Linked DNA regions of Homo sapiens. The protein of the gene in region 1 interacts with the protein of each later gene in a biochemical or structural test. Each region holds a gene or a part of one and is shown in the gene's direction. Other genes may lie near its edges.

What was found.
Region 2: the proteins of TJP3 (region 1) and ZNF599 interact in a test that uses a peptide from one of them, tested with the Homo sapiens proteins (one large-scale study listed by IntAct).

The regions. Positions count from the first base shown.
Region 1 is NC_000019.10:3,735,524-3,739,770, forward strand, and holds part of TJP3 (tight junction protein ZO-3), read left to right. Parts: intron 1-42; coding exon 43-116; intron 117-345; coding exon 346-412; intron 413-641; coding exon 642-798; intron 799-3,031; coding exon 3,032-3,140; intron 3,141-3,373; coding exon 3,374-3,611; intron 3,612-4,247. UniProt on the Homo sapiens protein: TJP1, TJP2, and TJP3 are closely related scaffolding proteins that link tight junction (TJ) transmembrane proteins such as claudins, junctional adhesion molecules, and occludin to the actin cytoskeleton.
Region 2 is NC_000019.10:34,762,975-34,766,715, reverse strand, and holds part of ZNF599 (zinc finger protein 599), read left to right. Parts: intron 1-3,741. UniProt on the Homo sapiens protein: May be involved in transcriptional regulation.

The DNA.
Region 1 (4,247 bases):
TGAAATCCATCCCTGCCTCACTCCCAATCTGTTCCCCACCAGGGAGAGTCCCCGGCTTCGGCGGGAAAGTTCAGTAGATTCCAGAACCATCTCGGAACCAGATGAGCAACGGTCAGGTGGGTGGTGACTCTGAGCACCCCTGTCCCTGACATTTCTGATCCCTGACAGCAAGGCTGTGCCAGGCAGAGCTGGGGGAGGTTGGCCTGAGCCTAAGTGGTGAGACATGGTTTCCTGAGAAGGACTCGAGGTGGGTGACAGTCCTTCCAGGATGAGGACATAAAGCAAAGGTTTGGAGGCTGGACTGAGCCAGTGTGCTTGGGAAAGAGACTGGCTTTTCCCTTTCAGAGTTGCCCAGGGAAAGCAGCTATGACATCTACAGAGTGCCCAGCAGTCAGAGCATGGAGGATCGTGGGTATGTACCCCAGAAGAAAGCAAACCCGCTCAAAACTCCTACATCCCAGGCTGCCTCCCTCATCAGCGCAATCCTGCCTGCTTGTATCCATTGTGTTGAGTGGGACCATTAAGTGGGGGTTTTGGGGAAACTGAGGCCTGGAGGGGGTGGGGGCTTTCCCAAGGACAATGCTGAGCCCTCCCTTTGTCCGCCCACTCTGCTCTGACCCCATCTCTGCCTCCCCTTGCAGGTACAGCCCCGACACGCGTGTGGTCCGCTTCCTCAAGGGCAAGAGCATCGGGCTGCGGCTGGCAGGGGGCAATGACGTGGGCATCTTCGTGTCCGGGGTGCAGGCGGGCAGCCCGGCCGACGGGCAGGGCATCCAGGAGGGAGATCAGATTCTGCAGGTGCTCCGGGGGCGGCTGGCCAGCCCCACTGATCATGGGCGTGCAGTGTGCTAGGTCCTGCCCTTGTCTGTTCCAGTCCTCCCCTTGGGTCCACCTGGGGACTGTCGAGACCCCAGATGGGTATTTGAACATTTCAGTGTCTCCTTGGCTGTGTCATGATTTTGCTGATGTCACGACCTTATCTTCCAGGTCATGACCTCATCGTCCAGTTACAACCTCCTTTTCTGTGCCTTGACCTTATCTGGGTTCATTTTTTGTTGTTGTTGTTTTTGAGATGGAGTTTTGGTCTTGTTGCCCAGGCTGGAGTGCAATGGTGTGATCTTGGCTCACCGCAACCTCTGCCTCCCAGGTTCAAGCAATTCTTCTGCCTCACCTCCTGAGTAGCTGGGATTACAGTTGTCCACCACCACGCCCGGCTAATTTTTATATTTTTAGTAGAGATGAGGGTTTCGCCATGTTGGCCAGGCTGGTCTCAAACTCCTGACCTCAGGTGATCCACCTGCCTCGGCTTCCCAAGTAGCTGAGATTACAGGCATGAGCCACTGCGCCTGGCTAACTTTTTTTTTTTTTTTTTTTGAGATAGAGTCTTGCTCTGTCACCCAGGCTGGAGTGCGGGGGTGTGATCTTGGCTCACTGCAACCTCCGCCTCCCGGGTTCAAGGGATCATCCTGACTCAGCCTCCCAAGTAGCTGGGATCACAGGTGGCCGCCACCATGCCCAGCTAATTTTTGTGTTTTTAGTAGAGACAGGGTTTCACCATGTTGGCCAGGCTGGTCTTGAACTCCTGGCCTCAAGTGATGCACCCGCCTCAGCCTCCCAAAGTGCTGAGATTATAAGCTTGAGACACTGTGCTCAAGATTGGGAACAACAATCTTGTTGTTCATGTCATATGACATTGTTCATGTGACATTCTTGTTATCAATGTCACAATCTCCTTGTTATCAATGTCAGGACTTTGGGTCACAGCCTCATTGCCTATGTCATGACCTTGTCTGGGTCGCAATCCTCTTGTTCCTGACATTGGCTGTGTTGACCGTGTCATGACCGTCTTGTATGTCCTAATCGTGTGGTCAGGTCACAGATCATTCTCTCATGATCTCCATGTCCACTTATAGTCATTTTCTGTGCCACCATCCCCTGTGTCTGTGTTGTGACCTTGCCTGTGTCCTGCCTTCATGACAGTGTCATAACTACCTCCAGGATCCACAGCCCCTCATCATCCCCCCATCTCTGTCCTTGCCTCATCTCATCCCCAGGCTGTCTCCCCTGTCCCTTGCGCGAGTTCACTCACCAAGTCTCACCCCCACTTTGCTCTCATGACCTTGCTTGTGTCTTGACCTTGCAGTGTGAGTTGTGATTCATGATGGAGTCACAGCTCCCCACTTTCCATGTCATAAGCCCACTGGCTGGGTGAAAACTTGATGCCAAATTGCCTGAGGGTCATGGTATTTTTTACTGTATTTCTACTCATTTTGCTTGTGGGATTCTAACCTTGACATCCACGTCATGACCCCGAGAGTAGGTGTCTGTGCCCACAAGCTGTGCAAGTATATTGCTGTCCCTGTTATGACCCTGAGAGCAGGTGGCTGTGTCTGTATATTGCTGTCCATGTCGTGACCCTGAGAGCAGGTGGCTGTATATTGCTGTCCATGTCATGACCCGGAGAGCAGGTGGCTGTATATTGCTGTCCATGTCATGACCCTGAGAGCAGGTGGCTGTGTCTGTATATTGCTGTCCATGTCATGACCCGGAGAGCAGATGGCTGTGTCCATATATTGTTGTCCCTGTCATGACCCTGGTGGTAGGCATCTGTGACCCACTGTGTGTCCATATATCGTTGTCCCTGTCACGACCCTGTGACTACTGTGACTACGTCTGAGTTCTTTTGAGCATTTCACACAGTTTCCATCGAGCTCCATGCCATGACCTCTGTTCCCATGTTTTGATATTGACAACCCACCATGATTTGGTTATCTGAGGACAAGTGCAGTGCCTGTGCCCGTTTCTGTGTCAAAACTCTTGTATCCTTACAATGCCACCAGCTGTCTGTGTCACACATCACACAGCCATAGGGTGATACCCCAGTCGGAAAGCCCTCGGGGAACTGCCGGGTCCCTTGGCAGCAGCTCTGGAAGCAGCTGGGGCTGAGTTTTGCCCAGAGGAAGGTCCAGGATCTCATGCACGCCCAAGAGGTACCAGAGCTTTTTCTATAGCTGCACTTGCTTTCTGGCAGGTGAATGACGTGCCATTCCAGAACCTGACACGGGAGGAGGCAGTGCAGTTCCTGCTGGGGCTGCCACCAGGCGAGGAGATGGAGCTGGTGACGCAGAGGAAGCAGGACAGTGAGTGCGCGTGGATATGGGTGTGCCTGTGTGTTGCGGGGGGAGGACCTGGCTGTGTGGCCTGGTGGTGAGTGCAGGGATGTGGTTGAATCTGCATCTCTGCACCCTCCATCCCTCTCCCTGGCCCCTACAGGGAGAGTGCCCCAAATCTCCAGCCAGGCCCACTCTCGGGTGGGGAGGGCTCAGATCAGGCAGCAGCCCAGGCAGCTCATGTGGCCTCCCGCTCTCCCCAGTTTTCTGGAAAATGGTGCAGTCCCGCGTGGGTGACTCCTTCTACATCCGCACTCACTTTGAGCTGGAGCCCAGTCCACCGTCTGGCCTGGGCTTCACCCGTGGCGACGTCTTCCACGTGCTGGACACGCTGCACCCCGGCCCCGGGCAGAGCCACGCACGAGGAGGCCACTGGCTGGCGGTGCGCATGGGTCGTGACCTGCGGGAGCAAGAGCGGGGCATCATTCCCAACCAGAGCAGGTGGGGACTGTGTGCTCCTGCAGTGGGGCACTTCTGCTTCAGCCTCAGTCTCCCCGTTAGAAATGGGCTCGATTGGGCTGGACGCGGTGGCTCAGGCCTGTAATCCTGGCACTTTGGGAGGCTGAAGTGGGCAGATCATGAGGTCAAGAGATCGAGACCATCCTGGGCAACATGGTGAAACCTCGTCTCTACTAAAAATACAAAAATTAGCTGGGCGTGGTGGCACATGCCTATAATCCCAGCTTCTTGGGAGGCTGAGGCAGGAGAATCGCTTGAACCTGGGAGGCAGAGGTTACAGTGAGCCGAGATCACGCCACTGCACTCCAGCCTGGCAACAGAGTGAGACTCTTGTCTCAATAAATAAATAAATAGGCATGATATCACTGCTTAGCAGTGTTGGTGGTTCAATCTGAGGAGGTCCACAAAAGGCTCTGGGCGGGCCCCATTTGGTGCTGGTATGAGCTTCCTGTTGTTGCTGTAACAGATGCCCAGAAACTTAGTGGCTTTAAACAACACACACATCCTCTTACAGTTCTGGAGAGCAAAAGTACTAAAGTCAAGGTATGGGCAGGCCTGGGCCCTCCCAGAGGCTCCAGGAGAAAACCAATTTTCCACCTTTCCCAGAGTCTAGAGGGG
Region 2 (3,741 bases), about 31 Mb from region 1:
GAGAAGAGCCTATGGGTATAGTGAACATATACTTATCTGATACACTTAGCCTACATTTGAAAGATAGTGATGATAGTTTCTGCATGACTGGGTTGTTTGGGAATGTGATCACATAGCAGGAAACTGCCTAGCACACTGCCTGACCCGGAGTGGCTCAACAGAAGTTACTTGTAAGTAATATTAATGTAGTGTTAGTCATAAGGAATAGTGATAGCTCAGACATTCTTCTGCATTCAGAAGACAGTCCTTTCTTTTCCTGCAGATTACTATTTCAAACTACACTCTGCATCCCACCATTTTTCACCTTCTCCAGCCCGTCATTTATTGATCCATCCATTCATCTTTTCATTTATGTATCAGATACGCAGAAGCACTCCCTAGCCCTGTTGTTTTCTGGCCCTCCTGTCTTCTAAAAACCTCAAGGTGATGATTGCCTTTGTCAGTCCCACATCTGGGCTGCCAGAGGAAGCTGGAGCCATCAAGCAGGTGGATTTGTGACACTGTAGATTCACCATCTCACCCCTCTAGTGTCCTTCTTGCCTGCTCAGTCAGCCTTCACCCCTCTCCCCTATTCCACATCTTCACTTGAATGTCTCAGAGGCACCTCACACTCATCATGCCTAAAAGGACCTCATGATCACCCCCATTTTCAGCTAATGCCTCTTTCAATGAGTGGAGAAGGCTAAAAACAAACGTGGACAACCCCTCAACACCTCCATCTCCCTCATACCCAATATCCAGCCATCCCCGAATCTTGACCATTTCACATCACTCATGTCTCCTGAATCCTCACCTTCACTAGTTTCCATCAGCTCCAGCATTAGTACTCTAGGCCAAGTGATCATCTCTTGCCTGCATAATGCTACCAGATTCCTCGCTGTTTTCCCCCATGTGCTCTGTGCATCTGGTCAGCCCTGTGTGTTATATCTGCATCCACTCACATGTTCCATGTATCACCGCCTCCCTTGCCACTGATGTCAGAGCATCTGACCTACTTTATGAATAAAGCCTACACACTTGATTTTCTTGCTTTTTGACACTTACTGATTCATGTTCATCTGACTTATCCTGCAGCTTCCTTCTCACTTCTGTGGAAGAGTTATCATCCTGGCCATGGCTAATTTCTCCAGCAGAATCTAGATTACACTTTCTGCCTTCTCAGGTGTATTAGCCATCTACTATTAATATGTAACAATATTACCACAAACCCTGCAGCTGAAAACATCACTTATTTATTATCTCCCACCTATGGATTGGGAGTCCAGGCACAGCTTAGCTGGGTCCTCTCAGGCGTGTCATAGGCAGCTCATAGCTCATCATCACCATCAGCTCACTTCTTCAAATCAAGCCACTGTGTGAGACTCCAGCAAGACGGATGTTCCAGTCTTATAAAATTACATATATTTTATCATGTACATTCCATCATCTTTGCCATATTCTATACTTTAGAAGCAAATCGAGGTCCTGCCAACATTTTAACAGGGGAACTACAAAAGGGTGTGAACACTATGACTTGGGGATCATGAGAAGCCATACGTGAATCTCTCAGCTGCATCAGGGAACATGCTTCTTCACTTACTTCCTACCTCTTCTATATTTTCATCCCCTCTCTACTCAACATTAAAAAAAAATGATGATGTTTCTGATACCTGGGGGAGACTTTTTTTTTTTTAGTGCTCTTACGTCTCCAGCAGCATCTACATATTGTTGACTCTATTTCACCTGAACAGCCAAGCTTGTTGGAGAAGTCTTCTCATTCTTTGAAGAGACATCTACACAAGACTTTCCTTTATTTATTTTTTCCCTTATTTTTGTACTGAGGTGCAATTTATACATAATAAGTGTACAAATCATAAAGTTTCATTTCTATAAAGTTTTATATATGTACAAGTCAGAGAAACCATCTCACAGTTCAAGAAATACAGTGTTTTCAGCACTTAACAGGCTCCTTGTGCTCATTCTTTGTCAGTATCCCCTTCTATAAAAGTAGTCAGTGTTTATACTCTATATCACCATACATTAGTTTTGAAGGCATATAAATAGAACCCCCTAGTACATACTCTGTCCTGACTTCTTTTGATAATCTTTATGACTCAGATTCATTCATGTGGTTGCATATAGTTGGAGTTAGTTCATTACCATCATTGAATGAATAGACTACATATACCCATTTTCCTATTGATGGACATTTGACTTGGTCTCCATTTTTGGAATATTATGAAGACTACTCTTATGAATATTCTTGATTGTATTTTTTGTTGGATATAAACCCATATTTCTGTTGGGAATATACATACAAGTGGACTGGCCAGATCAAGTGTGGGCATATGATTAGCTTTAATCGAAACCACCAGTTTCAGAGTAACTACACCATTTCACATTTCCACTAGCCACGTATGAGAGTCTTCATTGTTCCATGTACGCCTGAGCAGTTGGTGTCTTTCCCTTTACTCTTTGATGCCTGGTAGTGGTGTTTCTCAGCACCACAGCACTTAAAGTGTTCTTGCCCAGGTCACTGTTGCCATCCTGATTGCTAAATTCAACTATAATGATAATAGACAGTGGTCTACAGTTTACCAAACATTTATTCTTTGTCACACGAATGAACTTTTGTTTGGTTTTTGGGTTTTTTTTGAGACAGGATCTCACTCTGTCGCCTAGGCTAGTGTGCAGTGGCACAATCTCGGCTCACTGCAGCCTCTGCCTCCTGGGTTCAAGTGATTCTCGTGCCTCAGCCTCCTGAGTAACTGGAATTACAGGCATGCACCACCACACCTGGCTGAATTTTTTGTATTTTTAGTAGAGATAGGGTTTTGCTGTGTTGGCCAGGCTGGTAACTCCTGGCCTCAAGTGATCTTCCTGCCTCAGCCTCCCAAAGTGCTGGGATTACAGGTGTGAGCCCCCACACCCAGCCACAAATCAATATTTTGTATGCTTTTTCTCCTAACAACTTGTAGGCAGGAACTGAGAGTATCCCAGTTTTTCAGATGAGGAAAGTGAATCTTAGAAAAGTGTGTTAGTCTGCTCTGGCTGCTGTAATAAAATACTATAGACTGCGTGGCTTATATAGCAGAAATGTGTTTTCTCTCAGGTCTAGAGGCCGCAAGTCTAAGGTCAGGGTACCAGCATTGTTGGGTTCTGATAAGGGCTGTCTTCTCAGCTTGCAGATGGCCGCCTTCTCACTTTGTGCTCACATGGCCTTCCCTCAGTGCCTTCACTTCTTACAAGAAGTTTACCATGTTGGCCAGGCTGGTCTTGAACTCCCGACCTTCAGTGATCCGCCTGTCTTGGCCTTCCAAAGTGCTGGGATTACAGGCATGAGCCACCATGCCTGGCCCCCCTCTGACTTTCATAATTGTCCCTAGGTGTGCAGAATTAGAAAAATTATAAATAATGATTTATGACACATTGTCATCATTAGTCAATGCGTGTCCTGGTTTTTTGTTTTATTTTCTTTCATTGCATTTTATTAATATATTTATTCATCCTCCTTTAAAAAGATTGTAATGAACACCTACAAACCTTTCGCCAAGTACAAGAACATGACCTGCTTCCTGCATCTGTTGATGTGTTTCTTTCCTTTCCCATTCCTATGCTGCCTCCCTTGCATACATGGCCACTTTAAGATTTGTTATTCCATTGCTTATTCTGTAGGAAGATTCAGGTTTTTTTCATAAATATAGGCTATTCAGATGTTCTGTTTTTGTTTGTCCGTTTTGGTAATTTGAGTAATGTAAAATA